Homo sapiens: one gene and its partners. The protein of the gene in region 1 purifies or fractionates together with the protein of each later gene. This does not show direct contact. Each region holds a gene or a part of one and is shown in the gene's direction. Other genes may lie near its edges. The genes, in order: TCL1B, ARFGEF1, NDE1 and ACAD11.

Region 1 (6,974 bases):
GAAAAAAAAGGAAACAAAACAAGAACAGAGCATAGAGAGCACGGTACACTTGTTTAAAGGGTCTGACAATGTGTAATTGGAGTCACTGAAAGAGAGGGAAAGGGAGGAAAAGAAAGGATGAGACGGGAATAGTTGAAGATACAATGGCTAAGACATTTCCTCAAATAGTGGATAAACTATTAGAGTTAAGTCAATTTATCTAGGTCTTAGATATAGTGTCAATGCACACAAACCAGTTGCATTTTTTTATAACAGCAACAAACATAATACATAATTTGAAATGACATTTAAAATAGCATCAATCAAATACTTAAGAGTTAATTTAATGAAATCAGAGAGAACAGTTAAAGACAACCCAAAATATGGAAGGATACACTATGCAATTGCTTCGGATCGTAAGTCTTAATATGTTGGAGATGTTAATTCTCTTCAAATATACCTATAGATTCAACACAATCCCAATCAATCTTAGCAGGCTTTTGGAGGTGGGGAGGATTAACAAGCTGATTTTAAAATGCATATGGATATGTAAAGGGAAGAGAATAGCTATATTAGGGTTCTCCAGAGAAACAGAATCTTACAATAAGATATAAAGACCTATTTTAAAGCTATAGTAATTAGCAATGTGGTATCAACACAAGGAGAGACAAACAGACTAATGGAATAGAAAAGTGTCCAGAAACAGACTCATACATAAATGTTCCCAGATTTATGACAGAAGTGATAATACCGTACAGTAGACAAAGCATAGTCTTTTAAATAATTGGCATTAATTGGATATCAACATGGAAAAATTAATCTAAATAAAATCTTTAGAAGAAAATAGTGTACATAAGCAAAACTTTCCTAAACCCTCATTCTTCAGTTCCGTGGTTGGGTTGACTTTCTTTTACCACTTTGCAAGTTTGCTCTGCTCACTGTCTGAAATAAGCAGAGCTGGAACTTGGATGTTCTTGTTTTTGTTATTATCTGCACAATCCCCATCCAGTCTTTTCTCTAGTAGTCATGATCTACTTGATACTAAGCCACTCTTTGGTTTTATCATTAGTTCTAACATTAAGTGCATACTTATGTCACTCCTTGTCTCAAACACTCATTGCTCATCATTCAAAACCAGCTGCTGGGACTGGCGTGTTTGATGCTTACAATGGAGCATCAATACCACCCCTGCCCCCACCACCACCACATTCTTATTCTTTATCATATGAGCTTGGATAATCCTCATTATTCCTGATCTCCAGACACACCCTGAATTACCTCTCCTCCAGGTCTACTCATGCTGCTTACTCGGTGGGACAACTTTGCCAGTTCCATCTAAACCATGCCCTGTCTAGGCTGTCTGCCTTTGGCATCTTGTCTGCCCTGCCATTTTGGCCCAGTACCTAGGAGGAGCTGAACAGAAATGTGCAGAGGTATCAGTGACTCTTACCCAGCCTTCCAAGCCCTGCACAGCGCCTCCTTGTTTGTGGTCTGGAATCCTTCCGGCAAGTGGGTGTCCAGCCTCAACGTCCCCAGGGCTTGGGGCTTGTGAAGGGCTCCCTCTGCTGGAGGAGGAGAGCATTGGGCCCAGGCATGAGTGCACCATCAGTACCAGGCAATCCTGGGAGCAATTCTGGAGAGATCAAAGTGGTTCTCAAAGACATTGGTGACACCTACCCCGGAGAGTGAATCCTTCAGGTCACAGGTACCAGAGATGGACAACTTGGCCAGAAGACATAGCCTTATCTCACTTATCTCAGACATGACATGGACAAAGACCAGCTGAAGGACCAGGAACCAAACTGTTGTCACCTGCAGCTCCGTGGCTTTTTTCATACCAGGTCCAAGGGTTGAGGGATGGGAGACCTGGCCAAAGAGGGTGATCGGTGAAGCAATCTATTTTCCACCTTGAGGCTAACTGGTAGTTATTTCTTTCTGCCTATGGAGACCTCTGCTTACCTTCTGACCACCCACTCATGGCAAGGTGTTCTCAGTCTCCATCTTCAGACCCCACCACCATTTCTACAGTAGCCACTGTGGATCTCCCTACTCCAGGTTCTGCCTCTTCCATGTAATGAGCCAAACTTGGCCAAGGCAGTCAACAAGCAGCATGCATGTTAGAGCCAGGAACAGCTGGGTCCATATCCTTCCTCTGCTACCCACTTCATTCAGGTTGCTAAGCCACTCAAGCCTCTGATACTTCATCTATGAAATGGGGGTGACGGTCTCTAGTTTATGGAGTTGTTGGGAGGTGTTAGTGAGATACCCTATGAAAAATGCCTGACATGGCATAGGGGCTCCCCACATATTAGGCAACCTTTACCTCCAACCCCACTGACAGCCACACACCTGCCCATCAGGGAGTGAGGTTGAGAATATCAAAATATATATTTGCAACAGAAAATGATAGAGATAAATAGCAATTGCATTGGGGTTACAAGGGTAGGAATGATGGATTCTGCCTGGGAGAGGGAACTAGTCTGAGAACATAACTATTGACCAGGGTATTTCAAGTATTCACTATGTGTCAGGCTTTAACACTATACACACAGCCTCATCTGATCCTCAGAGGAGTCCCATAGGGTAGGTACCTACAGCAAACAGGCTTCAGGGGGGCCCAGGAGACCAGGGGTCCCCATGATCCCTGCCTCCTGGTATTCATAACCTTGAGTAAGGATAGGACCTACCCCTGACCAATGGAATATGGCAAAGGTGACACACGTACGTGATTCCATGTATGGATCACATTATATGAGACTGTGATGTCCCTTGTCTTCCTGGCCCACTCCATTCCCACCCCAAGTGTTGGTTCCTTGGAAAAACACTGGGGATGGAGGTGGAATTGCTGTGAAAACAAGACTCAGTCCTCCACAGAAGCTGCCCAGGGAGTTCTTCAAAAGTGGTTATCCTACCTGCCATTTACACTGGATCAGGACTGTCCAGAAATCATTTTCACATCTCCCCAGCAGAATGGCATCATCTCAATACTAATCTTCACTTGAACTAGAAGAATCATGCTTGTGGTTTTCAAAAGGAAAAGGTTCCTATTCATGGTGCATTTAGAAGCAGCCCAGGGTGCTTATAGAACGGACCTGCTTCTTGCTATGTTCTTGAGCTTCTGAGGCCTCTTGACAAAGTCGAGCAAGTAAGACGACCAGGCCAAGTGGGCACTCTGGGCCCCATGGCCAAGGATGGGCTGGCCAGGTGGCCACGTGGCCTCCGGTGGCCTTGTTTCTGTGGGCTTTATCTGATCCTGAGCTCAGATGCTGATAGTGCACTGGCTTATTTTCTAAGGAGAGGGAGCTTGATTTGTGCAGGATGCGCCTTCACCAGATACCTCCAGGGGCAAGAGTCCACTGAGGTTACAGCGCCCCCCGCCCCCCATGCCTCTAAGCTCTAAGCTCAGAGAAGGGTCCCTGACACAGAGTCCTGTTAAAGGAATGGCCACAGGGATAGGAGAGACCAGGGTCGTGCATGCCAGCTCAGGATCTGGGGCAGGATGGTTGGCAGGGGGTCGTGGGGAGCAAAGGAGGGGAATCACCTGACAGAAAATTGGGCAGGGGTGCTCAGGGAGGAGGCTGCGGAGGGACTGGGACCAGTGGAAGGGAGGTGGAATAGGTCTTAGGAGCCAAATTCCTTGCAGAGGCCTGGGGTGAAGCCTGGGCAGCTCTATCCCCGGGAGCCGCCCTTTTGCCTCCAGCAGCTGCCGGTCCAGCCACAGCCCCTCCAGGAGACCCAGGCCGGGTTCCTAACTCCGCTGCTCTTTGGCCTCGTCCCTGCCTAGCCCCTGCTGCAGGTTGCTTTTTTCCCCCCTCCTCCTCCTCCCTCCTCCCTCCTCCCTCCTCCCCCTTCCTCCTCCTCCCCCTCCTCCCCCGACTGGCCCCGCCCCCACTGCCGGCCCCGCCCCCACTGCCGGCCCGGGCCCCACCCACGCCGGAGCTGCTCCATTTAAGGAGATTGCGCAGCTGGAAAGCTACACGTGTGAGCCTAGAGGCGGGTCCCGGTTGCAGACTTGCCATGGCCTCCGAAGCTTCTGTGCGTCTAGGGGTGCCCCCTGGCCGTCTGTGGATCCAGAGGCCTGGCATCTACGAAGATGAGGAGGGGAGAACCTGGGTGACTGTGGTCGTGCGGTTCAATCCCTCGCGTAGGGAATGGGCCAGGGCCTCCCAGGGCAGCAGAGTGAGTCCTGGGCACGAGGGGAGGCTGTGGGGAGGGCTGCGCACTGACCCCTGCCCGTGTGGGACCGCGGTGGGGGTCAGAGGGGGCCGTTCTCACCCGCACTGGAAAACTCACTTCTGTGCAGGTCTAGGAGCGCAGCAATGTCCATGCCCAGCCCTGGCCCCAGGAACACCCCCCGTAAAGGGACCACAGGCACAAGCTTATCCACATGAGATAATGTGGTCCTGCGTGGTGAAGCCGAGGCTAAGGTAGCTCAGGGCTTAGTGCCATTCCCAGTGCCTGCTGGGAAGGCCCACAAATGGGGCAGCTATTGAGCTGGGCTTTGTGGGATGAGTAGGAGTTCTCCAGGTCTAGAAAGGAGGCAGGAGTAGTATAAGCAAAAGCATTGCAGCCTGGAGGCACCAGGTGGGCCAACAGGATGAACATGACATTGGTGTCAGATTACTGATCTGCAAAATGAGAATAATATACCTCTGTGGCAAGCTAGTCACAGACATGCTCACATACATGGCTCACCGCCTGAATGGCCTGGGGAAGCATTTGACTGATAACAGATTCTGGAAATTAATTCAGGAGGCTTGGGTGGAGTCCTAGATTCTTTACTTTTCAAAAGCTCCCCAGGTGATAATGATAATGACTCAGGAAACGGCTGTAGATGAGGGCTTTAGATCACAGCCAGTCTTTGAGGGATGAAGTAAATACAGTAGCGTTTCTGGTGTGGGTGGCGGTGGGGAATTGATTCCAGGACCGACTGTGGATGCTCAAGTCCCTGATAGAAAATGACCTGGGTAGTAATTACATATAACCTCAGCGCATCCTCTACTATATTTGAAATCAGATTACTAATAACACCTAATGCTACACCTACACATCACTTCAAGCTCTGCTTTTGGGAACTTTGTGGAATTTCTTTTTTTCCCAAAATATTTTTAATCTGAGGTTAGTCGAATTCATGGGTGCAGTATCCATGGAAATGGGGGGCTGGCTGTACCTTAGTGTAATGTGGTAAAAGCATATCCGGATATTTAAAATGCCATTTAGGGCTGGGCGCGGTGGCTCACGCCTGTAATCCCAGCACTTTGGGAGGCCGAGATGGGCTTATCACGAGATCAGGAGATCGAGACCATCCTAGCCAACATGGGGAAACCCCGTCTCTACTAAAAATACAAAAAATTAGCCGGGCGTGGTGGTGGACGCCTGTAGTCCCAGCTACTCGGGAGGCTGAGGCAGGAGAATGGCGTGAACCCGGGAGGCGAAGCTTGTAGTGAGCCGAGATCGCACCACTGCACTCCAGCCTGGGTGACAGAGTGAGACTCCGTCCCAAAAAAAAAAAAAAAAAATGCCGTTTAGGTCTTCGTAAACAATTCACTGCCTGTTTGTTTGTTTTTTGAGAAAGTCTTGCTCTGTTGCGGCTGGAGTGCACTGGTGTGATGTTGGCTCACTGCAACCTCCACCTCCCAGGCTCAAGTGATTCTCATGCCTCAGCCTCCCGAGTAGCTTGGATTACAGGCGATTTTTTTTTACAGTTAATTTTTTTTGTTATTTTCAGGAGAGACAAAGTTTAATCATGTGGGCCAGGCTGGTTTTGAACTCCTGACCTCAAGTGATCTGCCCACCTTGGCCTCCCAAAGTGCTGGGATTACAGGTGAGCCACCTCGCCCAGCCAGTTCACTGACACTTTAAACAATATAACACATTTCCTAAAAAAAGTTCAAATAGGTTATTTCAAAAAATGTTGGTAGAGAACATGGAAAGGCTTTTCTGTACATACACTAAATAAAGCATGCAAAAATTGTGGAGCAAATATTTTAAGTTTTTCAAAAGCCTGAAAAAGTGTTAATGGAGGGCACTGTAAAATGGTGCAGCCACTATGGAAAACAGGATGAGGATTTCTCAAAGAAAGAATTACGGCATAATCCAGCAATGCCGCTTCTGGATATATACCCACAAGACTCTGAAGCCGGAACTTAAGCATGTATTCATACATCCATGTTCACAGCAGTATCATTCATACTAGCCAAAAGGTGGTGGCAGCCCCAGTGTCCATTGATAGATGAATGGGTAAACAACACAAACCATGAAGTATTCACCCTTAAAAGTCAGACACACGGATGAAACTTGGAGCCATTATACTAAATGAAATATGCCAGTCACGGAAGGACAGATTCTCTTGTATGAGGTACTCAGAGTGGTCTCATTCATAAAGTGGAATGGTAGCTGCCAGGGGCTGGAGGGAGTCGAGGATGGGAAGTTAATGTTAGTAACAGGTACGGAGTCTCAGTTTGGGAAGATAAAAAGTTCTGGAGGTGGATAGTGCCGACGGTTCCACATGTCAATGCACTTAATGCCACCAAACTGTACTCTTAAAAACAGTTGGCCGGGTGCGGTGGCTCACGCCTGTAATCCCAGCACTTTGGGGGGCCGAGGCGGGCGGATCACAAGGTCAGGAGATCGAGACCATCCTGGCTAACACGGTGAAACCCCGTCTCTACTAAAAATACAAAAAAATTAGCCGGGTGCGGTGGCAGGCGTCTGTAGTCCCAGCTACTCGGGGGGCTGAGGCAGGAGAATGGCTTGAACCTGGGAGGCAGAGCTTGCAGTGAGCTGAGATCCAGCCACTGCACTCCAGCCTGGGCGACAGAGCAAGACTCCGTCTCAAACAAAACAAAGCAAAACAAAAAAAACAGTTAAGATTTTTTTTTTTTTTAAATGATTCAGTGGAAATAGAATGGATTCTTCAAATAACTTAGCCACGGGTGGGATAAGGGACCTACTTAGTAAGTATTTTTTCCCCTTCTTTCTTAAAAATAGATCGA
Region 2 (7,028 bases), on another chromosome or scaffold:
TGCCCTAAGGAAAGTGGTTTGGCCAATTCTTGGGTAAACTGAGACTATTTGCAAGGTTATATTAAGTCACTTTTAGTGTAAATGAACTTTCTAATCAAATATACTTTACTGGTAAAAATACGTCAAATTTTTCATTTTAAGAACTTGCTTAATGCTAGACAATAATCAGGAAAGAATCTGTAGTGTGCCAATTATTAGTTTTACAAATTAATATTTTTCTTATTCTTAGAATCTCATATCTATCCGGGGTTTGTAAATCTGATAAAATTACAGCAGTATATACTTACCCTAATAATAATATTGAATGTAAACTGGTTCACATGGAGTAGAGGTGGAGGGGAGGGAGAAACATCCAGACTACACTTGTTACTAAACTAAATGATGAAAAATACTCATTTGAATACCCAATTTTTTGTTCCCTTAAAACATAAAAATAGCTAGTACCCCATGCCACATACTTTTCAATTGGAATAAGAACAGTAACTTATAAATTTTTTAAATTGTGTTTTATTTTCCCTAGAATATTCACAGGATCTACAAGGCTAGATGGAAATGCCATTGGTAAGTATGGGCATTTATTCTACTTCGGAACTGGCTTGGGGCTAAAATAACTTTAATGTTGAGCTAAAAAAAAAATGTATTTATATTACAGTGGATTTTGTCCGTTGGCTCTGTGCTGTGTCTATGGATGAATTACTTTCCACGACACACCCAAGAATGTTTAGTCTACAAAAAATAGTAGAAATATCATATTACAACATGGGAAGAATAAGATTACAGTGGTCTCGAATTTGGGAAGTTATTGGAGATCATTTTAATAAGGTATTTGAATAACTATGGTGTTTGTTTACATTTGTAGTATATTTTTTGTTTAGAATGTCCTTGTAATCAAATTGAGCCTTTTTCCCTTCCAAGCAATTATTTATTACTTTTTAATATTAAATTAGAAAACCCTGTGAATGGTGTTTTTCTTTTTAGAAATGATTGCTCTGGGCTTTAAGAATTTGATTTAAAATATCTGTTTTTCTTGTTGAGAAATAGTTTTAGCATACTTAATGCCTTTATGGAAAATCTTAGGATTTACCTATCTATGCTATTCTATACTTTTTCTAAAACAAAAAATAAAGAATTGTAGATTTTTACTGCTGATATTAATTAGCATCGTTTATTTCTGTCGCCATTACAGGTTGGGTGTAATCCTAATGAAGATGTAGCTATTTTTGCAGTAGACTCCTTGAGGCAGTTGTCAATGAAGTTCTTAGAGAAAGGGGAGCTTGCTAACTTCAGATTCCAGAAGGATTTCTTAAGACCTTTTGAACATATAATGAAACGGAACAGGTACTATATTTGTTGAATTGCTTAATAGAAGGAAAATCTTGTTGTTTTCCACAGCAGGGAGAAAAACAGAAGAAAGGGGGAAAAACTGATGAGTTTTATCGGTTTGCATATCCAAGCAATTATATTAATATTTTTAGGTCTCCAACAATTCGAGATATGGTTGTACGGTGTATAGCACAGATGGTTAATTCTCAAGCTGCTAACATTCGATCTGGATGGAAGAACATTTTCTCTGTATTTCATCTAGCTGCATCTGATCAAGATGAAAGCATAGTGGAACTTGCATTCCAAACAACCGGGCACATTGTCAGTGAGTATTCTCTTAGCTGTGTTCAAGTAAAAGGAAAAAAAAAAAGCAACCTTAACGTGTTCAGAAGATGATTCAAGTAACAATAAGATTATGGCCTTTAAGTTTACCAAGCTTTGTCTACAGAACCAGAGTAAATAAAAACAATTAAATTACTATTATAGTTAACATTTATTGAGTATTTACCATATGGCAAATACTGTGTGCACTTTTCACGTAATTTCTTTAATCTTCACAGTTAAACATTATTGTCCATCCCTTTTTTCAAAATAGATTAGGAAACTCAGCCCCAGAAAGGTTAAGCAGTCTATGTAAGGTCACAGAACTAGTGATGGAGATGGTCTTGAGACCCATGGAGTATTAAAGCAAAGCCTTTATTTTTGACCAGTAAGTACATTGCACAGCCTTCTTCAAGGAGGAGTCCCCTTAAGTTCAAGGGGGACTGACTGAAATACTAAGATTATAAGTTAAGCCTATATGGAAGATGACAATGATGACCATCAACATCAAGAATCATGGCATCATCATAGCTATCATTTATTGCGTGCTTGCTTAAGTATTACACTAAGCACTTCACTTATATTATTTTACGTAGTGCTTACAGCTATCTGTGTATATTATTATTATTTCCATTTTATATCAAGAAACCGAGATACAGAGAGGTTAAGTAATTTTGTATATTCATTCAACCAAAGTTGAATCAGTACCTACCGTGTACCAGTCACTGTATTAGGTGCTATGTTTATAATGTAAACAAAACAGACAAGTTTTACTATTCTCACCACTCAGGGCAGTCAGTTAAGTGGTAAAGATAGTCTTGAACTTCGTATCTGTTGGATGTCAGAACCTGTAACAACCTTTAAGAGGAAGTGCATTACATCTAGATGTTGGTGTATTTTTGGTACAGCTAAGAATAATTGAAAAATTATAGTAATATATATTTTTCTCTATTTTAGCCCTTGTATTTGAAAAACACTTTCCAGCGACCATTGATTCTTTCCAGGATGCAGTGAAGTGTTTGTCTGAATTTGCGTGCAATGCAGCTTTCCCAGACACAAGTATGGAAGCAATTCGACTTATTCGCCATTGTGCAAAATATGTGTCTGATAGACCTCAGGTATAGCGTCATTTAGTAAACAAAATTTTGCAGAGTATTCTTTCCAATTTGAAATCTTAAGTTTGTTTGGGAATTGAGGGTATATGAAGCATTTATTTTTCAGTAATTTGAAAAATAATCTGAGCAGCCTGATTCCAAGTTAGGATGGTTAGTGATTATAACTAACCATTATTGAAAGTGTCAGGTATTTTTCTGAGTGTTTTTCATTAACTTGTATTAACTTGTTTAATCTTCTAATGGCTTTATGGGGTAGATAGTGTTATAGCCCCATACAGACAAAGAAACTGAGGCACAGAGAAATTTTAAAATGTGCCCATAGTTTCAGGGCTAGTAAAGTAGAACTAGGGTTTGAGCCCCAGCCTGTGTTTCTAACCATTCCCTACAGTGCATCTTGTCTGTCTGTGCTGTGTAATACTGAAGCTGACTGACTATGGATGAGAATAGGCTTAAGCTCTAAAGTAAAAGGTTGAATTGAAAATCTAGCTGCCATATTTAACTTGTATATTTGAATCTATCTTTGTAACTGTCATAAGAGAAAGTGATGTATCGTAGATTTGGTAATAAGATTTTATTCCGTACTACCATGGACCGATCAGGTGCTTGGTACTTTTTAGATACGTCAACTCATTTCACCTTCATACTTCACCAGTGTGGTTAATGTGGCTGTCTGGTATCATAACCATTTAAGTGATAAAAATGGAAACCTGAATTAACCTGGCTAATAATGCAGAAAGCTGGTGACAGTTGAAAGTGAAGCTAACTTTTGGATTCTAGTCCAGAGCTCTTTATAGGCAGTTATGTTTTGCCTATTTCAGTGGCACATATACTAAAATTGTAGGCAGTTATAGTGTCCATTTTTTATAAATTATTTTTTATTAAATTGCTCACTGGTTATTTGTGAAGCATTTAAATTATTTTTTGAGAAGTTAGTATACTGAATGTATGGGTGTTATGTTTTGCCTTTAATAACCCTACCTTTTTTCTTGAAGGCTTTCAAGGAATACACAAGCGATGATATGAACGTAGCACCTGAAGACAGGGTGTGGGTGAGAGGATGGTTCCCAATTCTCTTTGAGTTATCCTGTATCATCAATAGATGCAAATTAGATGTAAGAACCAGGTAACAATCTATATTTGTAATTAAAATTTTGGATTTATTTTGACTTTAATCAAATTAACTCTTCTTTATAAACACAATCTCACAGTTAAAGACCATAAAATCAAGTGTTTTGTCAAATATATTAATTATTAGGTATATTTTAAAATATGTTAATATGATTTAAAAATATTAACTAGAGCAAAATAAAAATGGAAATACTACATTATTTTTAAAATATTTGATTATAGCCTCCATTTGATTTTAGCTTCTAAGTTAATTTAATCCTTTAAACATTCCGTCTTTTCATATATTTGTTTCCAATAATAAGTTGAAGTTAGTGGCAAAATTTATTTTATTTCCTGATGAATGATAGAAGAATTTTTAACTGCACATCCTTGCTGGGTTTTAGGTGAAGAACCATTTCTTTTTGTAACCTGGTCAGTAACATAGTTTGGAATAATATAGAGCTATTCAAATAGAACTCTTTCAAAAGTATATTGCCAATAAAAGATCATTATGAACATATAGTCAATCTGTAAAGGAACTATTATGGGTATTATGTAACTGGCCAAATGCTAACACACTGTTCTTAGGTCACGGCTCACATGATTCCCATAGTAGTTTTTTTACCCTGTACTTTGCCACATTGAAATGGCCAGCTTGTGTGTCCTAATATCTGTCAACCTCTAAACCCACCGTGAGTTCAATTTTATGGTAAACAAAATCTTTTAGGAATCTTTCCATCTTATTTGGAAGAATCTTCTGTTATTTGGATGTGTAACTTTATCGAATTTTTTGAATTTCTAAAGGTAGCACAGAATGAATCTCTCTTTTCTCACCTTATGCCAGAACCACCCCCATCCCCCACCAAGGTTAAATTTGACTTATATCCCAAGAAATTTTTCATTTTTATAGTATTATTTGTTACAACAGAAATTCGTATGAAATAGATAATCAAAATAGGACTTAACCCTTAGGGATTTTAATTATGAGAGCACTATAGAAAAACATTTTATTTTATATTTAGACATGGTGGATTGTTTATCAGTGGACCTGTTAGGAACTTGTTAAAATTCAAGATAGCCCCATTTCAGCTGTCCACCTGCCTCAGTGGAGCGGCTGACATATCATGACTAGCAGGTCATGAAAACTCAGCACCCTCTCCCCTCACCCTTTATTTATTTGTAGAAGTCTGTTTGATGGAGGATCCACCTGCTTTCTTAGCCTTCTGTTGCTTGGCACTGTGATACCTTATTTCTCACCATATTCCATGTTCAGATTATGGGTAGATTCCAGTTGTTAAAGAGGTTGTGTGTGTTCTAGTTAGTAAAGGAGAGAGAAAAGATCAGTAAACTTTGTTCAGTGATGGCCTTTGATTTTCCTACCTCATCCCAGGATATGTATGGGTTGCTATTTAGCTTCCATCTTAAAATGTGGGCCGGATGCCATGGCTCACATCTGTAATCCCAGCACTTTGGGATGTCAAGGTGGGAGGATTGTTTGAAACCAACCTAGGCAACATAGTGAGACCCCATCTCTTTGAACAAAAAGTTAACTAGGCATGGTGGTCATGCCTCTAGTTCCTGCTGCTCATGAGGCTGAGGCGGGATTGCCTAAGCACAGGAGGTTGGGGCTATGGTGAGCCCTGATCACACCACTGTACTCCAGCCTAGGCAACAAATTGAGACTCTCTGTCTTTAACAACAACAAATAGTGCAGCACTATAATTGGTATAACACTGTGTAGAAAGAATTTCTTGTGTGCATTCTTACTTAATTCTTCCAAAATTCTCTAGATTTGGGGATAAATACCGAAAATTAAAGTCCCAAATATAGTCAGGCATCATTTAATGACAGGAGTATGTTCTCTGCAATGCATTAGTAGGCAATTTCAGCATTGTGTGAACATCATAGCATGTACTTACACAAATCTAGATGGCATAGCCTATTGCTCCTTGGGTACAACCTGCACAGCATGTTACTGTACTGTAGGCAGCTGTTAATACGGTGGTGTTTGTGTATCTAAACATATCTAAACAGGCTGGGTGCAGTGGCTCACGCCTGTAATCTCAGCATTTTGGGAGGCCAAGGTGGGCAGATCACCTGATGTCAGGAGTTTGAGACCAGCCTGGCCAACCTGGTGAAACCCCATCTCTACTAAAAATACAAAAATTTGGCCAGGCATGGTGGCCATACCTATAATCCCAGCACTTTGGGAGGCCCAGGTGGGCGGATCATCTGAGGTCAGGAGTTCAAGACCATCCTGGACAACGTGGTGAAACCCCTTCTCTACTAAAAATACAAAAATTAGCGAGGCGTGGTGGTGCGCACCTGTAATCGCAGCTACTTAGGAGGCTGAGGCAGGAGAATCGCTTGAACCTGGGAGGTAGAGGTTGCAGTGAGCTGAGAGTGCCACTCTACTCCAGCCCAGGCAACAGAGTGAGACTCTGTCTCAAAATAAAAATAAAAATTAAAAAATACAAATACAAAAATTAGCCGGGTGTGGTGGTGCACACCTGTAATCCCAGCTACTTGGGAAGGTGAGGCATGAGAATTGTTTGAACCCAGGAGGCGGAGGTTGCAGTGAGCCAAGATGGCACCACTGCACTCCAGCCAGGGTGACAGTATAAGACTCTGTCTCAAAAAAAAAAAAAATACATACATACATACATACATACATACATACATACATACATATACATATATATATATGTGTGTGTATATATATATATATATATATATGTGTATATATATATATATGCATGGAAAAGGTACAGTAAAAACATGGCATAAAAGATAAAACCTGTAGGCTGGGCATGCATGGTGGCTCACGCCTGTAATCCCAGCACTTTGGGAGGCCAAGGTGGGCGGATCACGAGGAAAGGAGATCGAGACCATCCTGGCTAACACAGTGAAACCCCGTCTCTACTAAAAATACCAAAAATTAGCCGGGCGTGGTGGTGGGCACCTGTAGTCCCAGCTACTTGGGAGGCTGAGGCAGGAAAATGGCTTGAACCTGGGAGGTGGAGCTTGCAGTGAGCAGAGATCATGCCACTGCACTCCAGCCTGGGCGACAGAGCAAGACTCCATCTCAAAAAAAAAAGAAAGAAAAAAAAAAGCAACAACAAAAACCCATATAGGGCACTTACCATGACTGGAACTCGCCGG
Region 3 (7,028 bases), on another chromosome or scaffold:
TGGGTGATAGAGCGAGACTCTGTCTTCAAAAATATTACTACGTGATGATTAACAATTTTGCTGTAGGGCAGAAAATACGCAAGAGGAACTCCGAGAATTCCAGGAGGGAAGCCGAGAATATGAAGCTGAATTGGAGACGCAGCTGCAACAAATTGAAACCAGGAACAGAGACCTCCTGTCCGAAAATAACCGCCTTCGCATGGAGCTGGAAACCATCAAGGTGAGGGGCTGAGAGGAAGTGTGCTCAGGTGTAGACAGGCGTCCAACACAGGCATGGCATGCTTGGCTGGAAGAAGGAACCCTGCAATGAGGGACTCCAGACCCCAGGCCCATGCTCATCTCTGGAAGGGCCTGTGCGGCAGACGTGATCTTTGAACTCTTTGTGCCTCTAGTGGGTGGTGCTTTTTGTTTTGTTTTTTTTTTTTTTTTGAGATGGAGTTTCACTCTTGTTGCCCAGGCTGGAGGGCAGTGGCGCGATCTTGGCTCACTGCAACCTCCACCTCCCAGGTTCAAGTAATTCTCCTGCCTCAGCCTCCTGAGTAGCTGGGATTATAGGCGCCTGCTACCACGCCTGGCTAATTTTTTTTGTATTTGTAGTAGAGACGGGGTTTTATGTTGGCCAGGCTGGTCTCGAACTCCTGACCTCGGGATCCATGATGGGTGGAGCTTTGAGAAGCAAGTCACACACATGTTCCCGTGGACTTTCTTGGTTGTGTACACTGATTTTATAGGGCACATGGCAGGGAGACTTTTTTTTTTTTTTGAAACAGGGTCTTGCTCTGTTGCCCAGACTGGAGTACAGTGGCTGGATTACAGCTCACTGCACCCTGGACGTCTCAGGTTTAAGCAGTCCTCTCACCTGGGCCGGGCGAGGTGGTGCATACCTGTAATCCCAGCACTTTGGGAGGCTGAGGTGGGCAGATCACGAGGTCAAGAGATTGAGACCATCCTGGCCAACATGATGAAACCCTGTCTCTACTAAAATTACAAATATTAGCTGGGCGTGGTGGTACACGCCTATAGTCCCAGCTTACTTGGGAGGCTGAGGCAGGAGAATCACTTGATGGTTGGAGGCTGTAGTGAGCTGAGATTGTGCCACTGCACTCCAGCCTGGCAACAGAGCGAGACTCCGTCTCAAAAAAAACCAAAGTCCTTCCACCTGAACCTCGGGAGTAGCTGAGACTACAGGCATGCGGCACCATGCCTGGTTAGTTTTTGTATTTTTTATAGAGACAGGGTTTCGCTGTGTTGCCCAGGCTGGTCTTGAACTCCTGGACGCGAGCAGTCCTCCTGCCTTGGCCTCCCAAATTGCTGGGATTATAGGCATGAGCCACCACCTGGCCAGGGAGACATTTTTAGGGTATGGAGGTGTTGCTAGAGTAATATCATCAGGTCCAATATTGTAGCCCTTAGCTACATTTGGCTGTTGAAATTTAATGAATTAAAATAAAAACTTAATTCCTCAGTCACAGTAGCCACATTTCAAGTGCTTAGGAGCCACGTGTGGCCAGTGAGTTTCCTTAGTGGACAGAGGGGCTGCAGACCATTTCCTTCATTACCAAAAGGTGTGTTGCACTCTGCCAGTTCAGAGCAGGTTTCTCGACCTGGCTGCTGTTGACATTGGAGCCCGGATCATCCTCCGTTGGGAGGGACTGAGGTTTGCTTTGTGGGTTTTTTGTTTGTTTGTTTTGTATTTTTGAGATGGAGTCTTGCTCTGTTGCCCAGGCTGGAGTGCAGTAGCGCGATCTCGGCTCACTGCAAGCTCCGCCTCCCAGGTTCACACCATTCTCCTGCCTCAGCCTCCCGAGTAGCTAGGACTACAGGCGCCTGCCACCACGCCTGGCTAAATTTTTTGTATTTTTAGTAGAAACGGGGTTTCACCGTGTTAGCTAGGATGGTCTTGATCTCCTGACCTCAGGATCCGCCTGCCTCAGCCTCCCAAAGTGCTGGGAATACAGGCGTGAGCCACTGTGCCCAGCCTGTTTTTTTTTTGAGATGGAGTCTTGCTCTGTTGCCCAGGCTGGAGTGCAGTGGCACAATCTCACCTCACTGCAACCTCCGCCTCCCAGGTTCAAGTGATTGTCCCGCCTCAGCCTCTTGAGTAGCTGGGATTACAGGCACCCTCCACCACGCCTGGCTAATTTTTTTTTTTTTTTTTTTTGAGACGCAGTCTCACTCTGTTGCCAGGCTGGAGTGCAGTGGCGTAATCCCGGCTCACTGCAACCTCCACCTCCTGGGTTCAAGTGATTCTCCTGCCTCAGCCTCCTGAGTAGCTGAGATTACAGGCACACACCGCCATGCCTGGCTAATTTTTGTATTTTTAGTAGAGATGGGGTTTCACCATGTTTTCCAGGATGGTCTTGATCTCTTGACAGTGTGATCTACCCGCCTTAGCCTCCCAAAGTGCTGGGATTACAGGTGTGAGCCACCACGCCCGGCTAATTTTTGTATTTTTAGCAAGGACGAGGTTTCACCATGTTGGCCAGGCTGGTCTCGAACTCCTGAGCTCAGGTGATCCGCCCGCCTCAGCCTCCCAAAGTGCTGGGATTACAAGCATGAGTCACCCCGCCTGACCACACTGTGGGATGTTTGGCAGCATCCCTGGCCTCCACCCTCTAGATGCCAGTAGCATTCCCCGCACCTCCAAGGTGGTGAAAACCAAAAGCACCTCTAGACATAGCCAGGTATCTGGAGACCCAGTGCTCTGCAAGGTAAAAACCATCCCTTCTGTACATGCTGTAGGGCTCAGCAAGGGATCACTAAGTCAACACCGTGCCCCAGAGACTGGCTCTCAGCCTTAGCTGCCAGCCAGCATCACTAGGCCAGCTTCATAAACATCCGACAGGCCTGAACCCTCTCTCCCCATCCCCATCTCCCCGCCTTGCTCTGAGATTCCATTTCTCAGTAAGTCTGGGTGGGGCCCTGGCATGTCTGTGTGGTTTTCTTTTTCTCATTAAACTCCCAATGTACATTTTGATGAGCTGCTTCATGGAAGAGTCAAAACTGTGTGTGCCCAGGGCTAGGTATGATGGACGGTGAAAGGGGAAGTGCTGGTTGCCTTCTTTGGGAAGACAAACCTAATGCCATGAAGCAGTTGGGGACGTGAAGCTCAGTCACAGAACTCTGATGTGGGGGCCTTTCAAGAGAAAAAGGACTGGCTGGGTGCGGTGGCTCATGCCTGTTATCCCAGCACTTCAGGAGGCCGAGGTGGGCAGATCACCTGAGGTTGGGAGTTTGAGACCAGCCTCACCAACATGACAAAACCCTGTCTCTACTAAAACTACAAAATTAGCTGGGTGTTGTTGTATGTGCCTGTAATCCCAGCTACTTGGGAGGCTGAGGCAGGAGAATCACTTGAACCCGGGAGGCGGAGGTTGCAGTGAGCCGAGATTGCACCATTGCACTCTAGCTTGGGCAACAAGAGCGAAACTCTGTCTCAAAAAAAAAAAAAAAGAAAGAAAAAGAAAGGACTGCATGGGTTGAGGGAGGCTGTGTGGAGGGTGTTTGTAGGTGTATGTGTTGCTGACACTTGGTGCTTGGGGAGATGGGGCTGAAGGAGAGTTGATCTGTACCCATCACAGACGTGGACAAGAATGGGTGTCGGGTGGACCTTGGCAAGCCCAGCTTTACTAATGTATAGGAAAGGGTGTGGGACCAACAAATGGATTGGGGGTTTGGGGCAGGGCGGAGGAGAGGTCCCAGACACGTTGAAGGTGGTCATTGAAGCTGAAGCTTTCTGTTGGAGACCACAGAGTGCAGCTGGCCGTCTGCAGATCCATCTGCCCCATAGGTGTTGTTTGATCGCCTTCAGGGGTTTTTGTTCAGCATTTCCCCATGAACGTTTTCCAGCATATAAGGCTGAAAGAATTTCCAGTGAATACCTGTGTATCCACCACCACCTAGGCTCTACCAATAATATTTCCCCTACTTACTTGCCTTTTATTATATATATTCCCCCATCCATCAAAATTTGTAAAGCTTCCTGTAAAAAGATGGATTTCTGGCCAGGCATGGTGGTTCATACTTGTAATCCCAGCCCTTTGAGAGGCTGAGGAGGGAGAATTGCTTGAGACCAGGAGTTCAAGGCCAGCCTGGGCAACATAGCGAGACTCTGTCTCTACAAAAAAATAAAAATAAAAAATTCATTGGACATGGTAGTGCACACCTGTAGTCTAAGCTACTCAAGAGGCTGAGGCAGGAGCATTGCTTGAGCCCAGGAGGTTGAGGCTGCAGTGAGCTATGATTGTACCATTGCACTCCATCCTGGGTGACAGAGCAAAAGTTAAAAAATAAAAAACCTGAGTAGTGGTTGTTTAGAACACACATTGTTGAGTTTCCCCCAATCCCCATATCCGTGACACGGAGACCTTAGTGTCATCTGCCTCTCCCTGTACTTGGCCCACTTCACCCATTTGTTAACAGCTGAACACCTGCTACACACAATGAGCAATGATTATCGTTCTTTTTGTTGTTGTTGTTTTTGCTGTTGGAGACAGAGTCTCCCCCTGTCACCCAGGCTGGAGTGCAGTGGTGTGATCTCAGCTCACTGCAACCTCTGACTTCCAGGCTTAAGTGATCCTCCCACCTCAGCCTCCCAAGTAGCTGAGATTACAGGCACCTGCCACACCACGCCTGGCTAATTTTTGTTATTTTTTGTAGAGACGGGTTCATGTGCCCATGCTAGTCTGGGACTCCTGAGCTCAAGTGATCCGCCTGCCTCGGCCTCTCAAAGTGCTGGGATTACAGGTGTGAGCCACTGCGCCTGGCTGATTATAGTTCCTAAATTGAAGGGGACTCTGGGTTGAAAAGCTGGGTAGGAGGAAGATTAGTGGTATGAACTGCAGTTTGGAGAGGATAACAGGCCCTCCATGGATCCTGAGTAAAATATCAAGAGAATTACTCAGTAATTCTCTGCTTCAAGACTGAGCTCTTGGGCCTGGCGTGGTGGCTGATGCCTGTAATGCCAGCACTTTGGGAGACCGAGGCGGGCGGATCATGAGGTCAAGAGATTGAGACTGTCCTCGCTAACATGGTGAAACCCCGTCTCTACTAAAAATAAAAAAATTAGCTGGGCATGGTGGCGCACACCTGTAGTCCCAGCTACTCGGGGGCTGAGGCAGGAGAATTGCTTGAACCTAGGAGGTGGAGGTTGCAGTGAGCTGAGATTGCGCCACTGTACTGCAGCCACATGTCAGATGCAGGAGACTCAGAGCACACAGCACAGTGAAGAAACAGGGTACCTTGGAATAACGAGGACCCTGCCACCAGCAAGTATTTGTCAGTCACCTAAGAGAAATATATTCAGCTGGGCCGGACTTCTTAACAACTGGCTTATTCATCACGGGTTGAATGAAAAAGCCTTTAAGGGACCAAACAGAGCATCTATTGATGCCCCCATCAGCTGACAGCTTATTCGAATTAGCCCCAAATGGCAGCACAACATTTCAGCAACAGGTTTTCATGTCCACAGGTTCCGAGGAGATCTCTCAATCGCCAGTGCAGTCGGTGGAGCCCACTCGCTGCGTCCTCCTGGAGCCTGCGTTTGAATTTAGGTTAATGACTTAAGATCCTGTTTTATTTGGAGATGTTCCCAAATAAAGGGTGTGAGGCGATGAGAGCCACGCCTGGGAACAGGGCCTGGTCTGCCTCTACTTGCTGGGTGCAGATACTTCTCTGCTTACAGCCAGGAAATGGGGAGGGTGCTGCGGGCGGCAGCAGGGATGTGGTCCGCCCTCCTCATCCTTCCAACGCTGTAAATCATCTGTTTGTTCTTTCTTTGGAGTCTTCTTGCACAATGGCTCTCGCCACGCCTCTCTGGCCTAGGCACCATTACATCACCCTGGGTGCATCCGGACTTTCTAGCAACGGCTTTGTTTACTTGATTGAGTAAAGAGAAGTTGGCCTTTTTTAACTTTTAAATTAGACCTTGCGCCTTTCTTGTGGGAAGTGTTTTCTCTTATGTTTGTAGAATCTAGGATGGGTGTTTTGTGTTTTCGGTTTTGATTTTTTTTTGAGATGGGGTCTCTGTCACCCAAGCTGGAGTGCAGGGGCACAATCTTGGCTCACTGCAACCTCCGCCTCCCGGGCTCAAGCGATTCCCCTGCCTCCCGGGTAGCTGGGACCATAGGCACTTGCCACCACACCCAGCTATTTTTTGTATTTTTGGTAGAGACGGGGGTTTCACCGTGTTGGCCAGGCTGTTCTCAAACTCCTGACCTCAAGTGATCTGCCCGCCTTGGCCTCCCAAGTAGCTGGAACTACAGCCGTGCACCACTATGCCGGGCTAATTTTTGTATTTTGGTTTCGCCATGTTGCCCCAGGCTGGTGATTTTTTTTTTTTTTTTAAGCGTTGGCCTGGGCTAGAGTGCAGTGGCATGATCATAGTTTACTGGAGCCTCAACCTCCTGGCCTCAAGCAGTCCTCCCACCTCAGCCTCCCCCATAGCTAGGACTGCAGGTGCATGCCACCACGCCTGGCTGTTCTTAAATTTTCTGTAGAGATGGAGTCTTCCTATGTTGCCTAGGCTAATATGCCTCTGCCACCTGAGGTGCTGGGATTGCGGCATGAGGCACCGCACCTGGCTCTGGGTGTTTGGTGAAGGAAAGTAATTTGGAAGCAGAGCAGGAATAGAATCGAGAGAGCACGGGAACGGGCAGGTGATCTGGATTGAGATGGTTTAGGGCTGGTTAGCATAATTGCTTAAGGACACCTGCTCAGGAGGCTGGGGTTTGGTCTTGGCCCAGTCATTTGCTACTGGTTGATTCTGGGCTAGTTAAGTAATTGAGTCTCAGTGTTCATGTCTCTGAAGTGGAATTAAACGAGACAACATAGGAAGTGTACTTAGCCTGGAGGCCAGCACAGAATAAGTATGTAATGGATGTTATTGCTGCAGCTGGCAACAGGGAATCATTGAGAAGTGCGCTGGACTGTTTCTTTGGTAATTAACAAGATCTCCCTCTCTGTCTCTCTCCTCTCCTTTTCTCTCCCTTTCCCTTCCTCCATCTTCTCCCTCCCTTCTGTCTTAGTTT
Region 4 (7,028 bases), on another chromosome or scaffold:
GGGGAGCCAGCACATCACGTGGCAACAGAGGGAACGAGAGATAAGGGGGGACATCCCAGACTCTTTTAAACAATCAGATCTCATGTGAACTCATTACTGAAGAGAAGGCATAAAACCATTTATGAGGGATATTCCCCCATGACCCTCCCACTAGGTTCCACCTTCATGTTTCAATATGCGATTTGGAGGAGACAAGCATCCAAACTATATCACGGTGTCTCTTTATTTTTTAAAAATTAATTTTGAATTGTTCCAGGTTTTTGGTATTATGGGTGATTTATAAAATTGAAACCTGAACAGTTTTATACTGTGAGACTCTGGACCTTTTTAAACCTTCTTGGCTTTCTTTGACACCATTCTGTCAGAGAAAGGAGTGGCATCACCTCATTACTGCTAGGCAGAGAGAGAAGTCCAGGTTCCCCTCCCAGCTTCCATCAGTACCTGAAGAGGATGATGCCCTCATACTGCCAGGTGGGATGAAAGTCCAGGCATCCCATTTGGACTGCACTAACAACCCATAAGATGGGTTGGGGGGACTTATTACTGGCCAGTGGGGAGGAAAGCCTCAGGTTTTTACTTGGCACTGTCTGATACCTTCCTGGCAGGGGAGCTGGGGCACCTCATTACAGTGCTTGCCAGGGTGGAAGCCTACGCTCCCCATCCTGCCTTTGCTGGTGTGAGGAGTGGTGGGGGCCAATGTTTTTTCTGTGGTGTTTGGCTGGAGTAAAGTGGTTATTCTCTAAAAGATTTTTGGCTTGCTAGGCTGCATCTTTCCTGATCCTTTGGTTAGAGAGATTATACTTTTGTTGGGGTGCTTTATGTTTTTGTTTTGTTTTGGTCTGTGCTCACTGACATTTCCAGGTTACTAGATTCTTCAGCTGCCGGGAAGAACCTCAGCAGCTGAGATATATGAGGCAAAAAGAAAACCTAGGAAACACACCACTAGGTTATTCTTTTGGACCTGAAGTCCCTAAATAGTCTGCCTTTTCTCTACCTTTCAGAGTCTTCTTATGTTTGTTTTATAGATAATGCCCAGGGTTATTAGTTGTACTTAACAGAAGGAATAGAGAAAAATATATCGATTCCATCCTTGTTAGAAGCAGAGGATATCAGACATACTTATTTTCTTAGTCTGTGTAGGCTGTCTGTAAGCCACAATGCAGAGCTCTCTGGGAAAACATGGATTGGAGAATGGGGTCTGGAGCCAAGGCTGAAGTAGAGTCTCCTCCATTCCAGATCTAGGACTTGGGACCCACACGCTCTAGTATGTGTACAAAGCACATAAAGTTAACAATTTAGATGAAGTAGACCAATTCCTCAAATCCCATGAACTATCAAAACTCACCGAAGATGAAGTAGATAACCTGAATAGTTCTACAACTATTGTTAGAAGTTGAATTCAAAGTTAAAAAGCTGCTGAAAAAAGAAATCTTCAGGCCCAGATGGTATTACTGGTAAATTCTACTAAACAGTTAGAGAAGAAGTAACACCAATTTTACATATCTATTCCAGAAATAGAGAAGGAGGAAACACTTGTCAACTCATTTTATGAGGCCAGAATCATCCTAATCCAAAACCAGACAAGAACAAACCATAGACCAATATAGATGCAAAAACCACCAGCAAAGTATTACCGAATAGAATCTGGCAGTATGTAAAAATAATCATACAGCATAATCAAGTAGGGTTTATCCCACAAATGCAAGCCTGATTCATGTCTATAACTCGATAATTAAAAATAAATTATTATAATCTGCCAAACTAACAGCAAAAACTGCATGAACATTAAAAAAATCACATGATCATATCAATTGATGCTTTGGCATTTGACAAAATTCAGCATCTGTTTATGATAGAAACTTTCAGCAAACTGGGAATACAAAGGAATTTACTCAACTTTATAGAGAGTATTTTTAAAAATCTAACATCATACTTAATGATGAAAGACTAAATGCTTTTCCCCCAAAACTGGAAATGAGGCAAGAATGTTCACCCTCACTATTCCAATTTATGATCATAGAAGAATTCCTAGGCAGTGCAGTAAAACAAGAGAAAAAAAGTGCATGTAGTTGGGGGAAAAAAGAAGTAAAACTGGGCCTGCTTGTAGATGACAATGTGATTGTATAGAAAATCCTAAGGAACGTATCAAACAAAACGAAACAACCCTCCCAGAACTAATAAGTGAGTTTAGCAAAGTCACAGGATACAAGGTCAGTACGTAACAATTTTATTTTTATATACAAGCAATGAACAATGGGGGAACTGAAAGTTTTAAAATACCATTTACAACAGTTTTTTTTAAGTACTACTCTACCAAAACACGTACAATATCCACATGCACTAAAAAGTAGAAAAAAGTGATATAATAAATCAAAGGAGACCTAAGTAAATATGTAGATTAGAAGACTAACAGATTAAAGATGTTAACCATCCTCAAATTGATCTGCAGACTTAAGGCAGTTCCAATCACAGTCCCAAAAGGACAATTTTGTAGATAAAGACAGACTGATCCTAAAATTTATATGGAAATACAAAAACACTAAAGTAGCCAAAACAATTTGAAAAAGAAGAAAGCTCAGTGAATCACACTACCTAATCTTAAGACTTACTCTAAACTACAGTAATCAGTGAGCAAAAGGCATGTAGATCTTTGGAGCAGAAGAGAGAGTCCAGGAATAGATTCATAGAAATATAGGCCAATTAATTTTTTACATAGGTGCAAAGGCAGTTCAATGGAAAAGGTTACATCTTTACAGTAAATGGTGTTGCAGCAATTGGACATAGATAGGCAAAAGAGGGACCCTTGATCTAAACCACACACCTCACACAAAATTTTAACTCTAAATGGATCATAGATCTAAATGTAAAAGGTAAAGCTGTAAACTTTTAGAAGAAAACATAGTGGAAAAATCATTTTCTGGGATTAGGTAAAATGTTCCTAAACATGCACCAAAAGCAAGGCTCATAAAAGAAAGAATTGACAGATTTCTCATGTGGCAAATGACTAGCGTCCTGAATATATGAAGGACTCTCTAAATCAAATAGTAAGAAAACAACCCAATTAAAAAATGGACAAAAGACTTTAACAGACATATCACCAAAGAGGTATAGAGATGGCAAATCAGTACATTGAAGGGGATCAACAGCAGTAGCCATTACAGAAATGCAAATTAAAACCATGATATCTCTGCACACTTAAAATGACTAAAATAAAATATGATACTAAGTGCTGATGGTTTGAGGAGCAACTGGAACTCTCATACACTGCTAGTAGGAATGCAAAATGTACAACCACTCTAGAAAACTGTCAGCTTCTTAATAAACATTTACCACTGACCCAACAATTCTACTCCTGCTATCTGCTTTAAAAAATGAAAACATGTCCACACAAAAACCCGTATACAAATACACAGAAACTCTATGAATAATCTCGCGATGGCTCACGCCTGTAATCCCAGCACTTTGGGAGGCCGAGGCAGGCAGATCACAAGGTCAGGAGTTCAAGACCAGCCTGGCCAATATGGTGAAACCCTGTCTCTACTAAAAAATACAAAAATTAGCCAGGCATGGTGATGGGCGCCTGTAGTCCCAGCTACTCAGAGGCTGAGGCAGGAGAATCGCTTGAACCCAGAAGGTGGAGGTTGCAGTGATCTGAGATGGCGCCACTGCACTCCAGCCTGGGCGACAGAGCCAGTCTGTCTCAAAAAATAAATAAATAAAATTTAAAAACTGGCAACAACCGAAATGTCCTTCAACAGGCAAATGGATAAACCAACTGATACATACTTACAATGGAATACTACTCAGCAATAAAAAGGAATGAACAGTCAATACACAGAACAATTTGGATGAAACTCAAAGGCATTAAACTGAATGAAAGAAGTTGGTCTCAAAACAATACATGCTATATGATTCTATTTACATGACATTCTGGAAAAGGCAAAACTATAGTGATGGAGAACCTATCAATGGTTGCCAGAAGTTAGGAGTGAGAGGAGCCTGTGACTAAAAAGGGGCAGCACCAGGGAGTTCTGTGGGAGATGGAACTGTTCTGTGTTCTTGACTGTGGTTATTCCAATCTATACATGTATTATAATTCAACTGTCTACTAAAGAAAAGGTCATTTTTAATGAATAAATAACAATAACAACACAGCAAATTGCTGCTGAACTGTCCCCACACTGAAATTGTGCTGAGAATTTTCTAGTTTACCTGTAAGCAGCTTCACTACCATACATTTAGCCAAGTTTCCATGACAGCAGGCAATTAGCATTCAGGAGGGCCTTTGAGTGGTTTGGCGGTAAGGCAGTTGCTCAGTTCAGCCATCTTTACCTTAGACATTAAGATATCCAAAATAAATGATTTTTCTGGGAAAATAAAATTTCTTTCTAAAATATTTCAATTTTAACTGTAAGCATTCCACAAGTATGTGGTTAGGCTGGTGTATATCAAATGAATTAACTCTTCCATTTAAAAATACATAGAGTAAAGCTTGTGAACAATCTCTGGCTTAGAGAGTGTTTTCACCAAACTATAAGACTGTGTTACACGTGGACATCAGATACCAGCTTAGCTCCTCCTTCTTTTGCTGCCTTTTCCTCCCCTATAGGAGGTTGTGGCTCACTGGATTGCTGAAAGCCGCATTGCCATTGAGAAGATCCGCTTGTTGACTCTGAAAGCTGCTCACAGCATGGACACTCTGGGCAGTGCTGGCGCTAAGAAAGAGGTGAGGCTACCTTCTCCCCTCAGACCACCAACTGCTGAGCCTTCTCCAGTTCTCTCACCTGTTGGACATTTCAGTTTTCATGGCATCTTGATGGCACTCAGAATATTGGAAGCCCCCATGTGATTTTGGGTTATAAATTATAAATGCCTGTCACTTGCTAGTCTCCTAGCAAGTGCTTTAGGGAATGATTTTCAGGAGGGAGAATATCTTCAGCATTCTTAAGATACAGCAACAAGGAATGGGGGAAATCATAGGCTTTACACAGCCCTGGAACTGCACCCACTCTGCCACTTTCTTCTAGCCTTGTGATCACGGGCAAAGTACTTAACTTTTCTGCCTAAGGCCTAGGGTTGTTGTGAAGAGTAACCAAGATGATGTACATAGAATGTGCAGAAGCCACGTACAGTGGCTCTCGCCTGTAATCCAAGCTACTTGGGAAGTGGAGGTGGGAGAATTGTTTGAGGCCAGGGATTCGAGACCAGCCTGGGCAACATAGTGAGACCCTGTCTCTTAAAAAAAAAATTAGCCGACATGGTAACTTGTACCTGTAGTCCCAGGGAGGCTGAGGCAGGGGGATTGCTTGAGCCCAGGATTCTGAGGCAGCAGTAGTGAGCTATGATCACACCTGGGAATAGCCACTCCACTCTATTCTGGGTGACAGAGTGAGAGCCTGTCTCAAATAACAAAACAAAAAATGCACAGCATGATACTGCTACATAGTAAATGTTTCATGAAAGAGACCTCTCATCCTTTGCTTTCTTATGTTTCTGGATTATATGAAATAAAGACATAATCATTTAATTCTAAAAGCCCATAAAACTGCTAAAAGAAACCTGATTAATAGCGCAAAGACCCTTGGACTATTTTTATGATCCCTAAGGTGATGAGTGTGATTTATCAGCTGCCTGAAATCCTTTTGGAAACAAGACAAGTTAGAAATAAATGGATAAAATGTGATTTGGAAGAGGTGTCTCTTTCCAGAGGGTCTGTATTGACTGAAATATGGCATTGCAGCAGGATCTCTTTGTTGGCTTTTGTTAAAGATCCTGTTTTAGTGGTGACTTGGATGTGGGAAAGTTTCCTTGTTTCATTTCCCAGTTTTGCCACATTGTGTATAGTCTAAGAAAGAAGCATTCTTTTCATATTTTGCTTATATAGATTGCAATGATCAAAGTGGCTGCCCCACGGGCTGTCAGCAAAATCGTTGACTGGGCCATCCAGGTGTGCGGAGGTGCTGGTGTTTCCCAGGATTACCCTCTGGCTAACATGTGAGTAGATGTCATTTAAGAATCATCTACGTTTGATAGGCGTGGAGGTAAAAAATCTACAGATGCCTTGACATTAATTGCTTATGTTTATTTTCAGTGTAATTGAAGGCTAAATGAAGTGATATACATTAATATAGAGCTCAACACCAAGAAATAGTTGCTCTTATTATTACAATAATCATTTCATTCCATTATGTTAATTTTTACACTGAGGGGTCCCACTGAGGATTCCTGGGCTGTAGATACAGCATGGGGTTTCGCTGAATTTGTAGCAGGACATGTCAGTGACTATCTAATATATAGATCCTGATGACTGGGAGGCAGAAAGGAACATTCTCCATTCCCCATCTGTCCATCTCCACACATAATTACAGTGTCACCTTCTCTATCACAATGGAGATAGAGTCTCATCCTTCATCAATTTTAAACCTTAAGAAAGAACTAAATATATAGTATCATACCAGTCACTGCCTGTTCTAAGTTCTAGCAACATGTAGTAAACTGTAGCAAACCAAGAATGAGATGAACTCCACTGTACTTTGGCATTTAACTTTCCCAAGTTGGAAACTTTAAGATGGCATTGCAGAAGCCCTTTAGCTTATTTTCCTGGTACCCTTTTTCTTACCCTGACCTTGGTGGAATTTAAGAATTAATATAGTCTTGGTTGACAATCAGAGTGACTGATGTCAAAGTATCATGTTCCTCTTCCATAACTCCCTGTGTTCCCTGATTCTTTTGCTTTTTCAGGTATGCTATAACCCGAGTTTTGCGTTTAGCAGATGGACCTGACGAAGTTCATCTTTCAGCAATCGCAACAATGGAGCTGCGGGACCAAGCCAAAAGACTGACAGCCAAGATATAAGGAGGGTGGCACTGCCACATCCCACTGGCAGAAACTCTCCTTTATACAAACTTCATTGGCTCCAACATTTGAATCTCATATTTTTGTAGCAGTTTGAGCACAGGGTTAATTATTCATTTGTGGTAAAGATTATAGCATCTATTTTGATCAGTGGGTTTTATTATTTCAAGGG

What was found.
Region 2: the proteins of TCL1B (region 1) and ARFGEF1 purify together in Homo sapiens (affinity purification with mass spectrometry; 3 studies listed by BioGRID and IntAct, with this or other methods). This does not show direct contact.
Region 3: the proteins of TCL1B (region 1) and NDE1 purify together in Homo sapiens (affinity purification with mass spectrometry; 3 studies listed by BioGRID and IntAct, with this or other methods). This does not show direct contact.
Region 4: the proteins of TCL1B (region 1) and ACAD11 purify together in Homo sapiens (affinity purification with mass spectrometry; 3 studies listed by BioGRID and IntAct, with this or other methods). This does not show direct contact.

What each region holds. Positions count from the first base shown.
Region 1 is NC_000014.9:95,682,472-95,689,445, forward strand, and holds the start of TCL1B (T-cell leukemia/lymphoma protein 1B), read left to right. Parts: upstream 1-3,954; 5' UTR 3,955-3,996; coding exon 3,997-4,158; intron 4,159-6,974. UniProt on the Homo sapiens protein: Enhances the phosphorylation and activation of AKT1 and AKT2.
Region 2 is NC_000008.11:67,221,757-67,228,784, reverse strand, and holds part of ARFGEF1 (brefeldin A-inhibited guanine nucleotide-exchange protein 1), read left to right. Parts: intron 1-520; coding exon 521-561; intron 562-652; coding exon 653-822; intron 823-1,186; coding exon 1,187-1,338; intron 1,339-1,475; coding exon 1,476-1,648; intron 1,649-2,601; coding exon 2,602-2,762; intron 2,763-3,751; coding exon 3,752-3,882; exon of another isoform or gene 3,883-4,096; intron 4,097-7,028. UniProt on the Homo sapiens protein: Promotes guanine-nucleotide exchange on ARF1 and ARF3. Promotes the activation of ARF1/ARF3 through replacement of GDP with GTP. Involved in vesicular trafficking.
Region 3 is NC_000016.10:15,667,220-15,674,247, forward strand, and holds part of NDE1 (nuclear distribution protein nudE homolog 1), read left to right. Parts: intron 1-66; coding exon 67-220; intron 221-5,189; exon of another isoform or gene 5,190-5,552; intron 5,553-7,028. UniProt on the Homo sapiens protein: Required for centrosome duplication and formation and function of the mitotic spindle. Essential for the development of the cerebral cortex.
Region 4 is NC_000003.12:132,558,799-132,565,826, reverse strand, and holds part of ACAD11 (acyl-CoA dehydrogenase family member 11), read left to right. Parts: intron 1-4,609; coding exon 4,610-4,726; intron 4,727-5,884; coding exon 5,885-5,994; intron 5,995-6,741; coding exon 6,742-6,856; 3' UTR 6,857-7,028. UniProt on the Homo sapiens protein: Acyl-CoA dehydrogenase, that exhibits maximal activity towards saturated C22-CoA.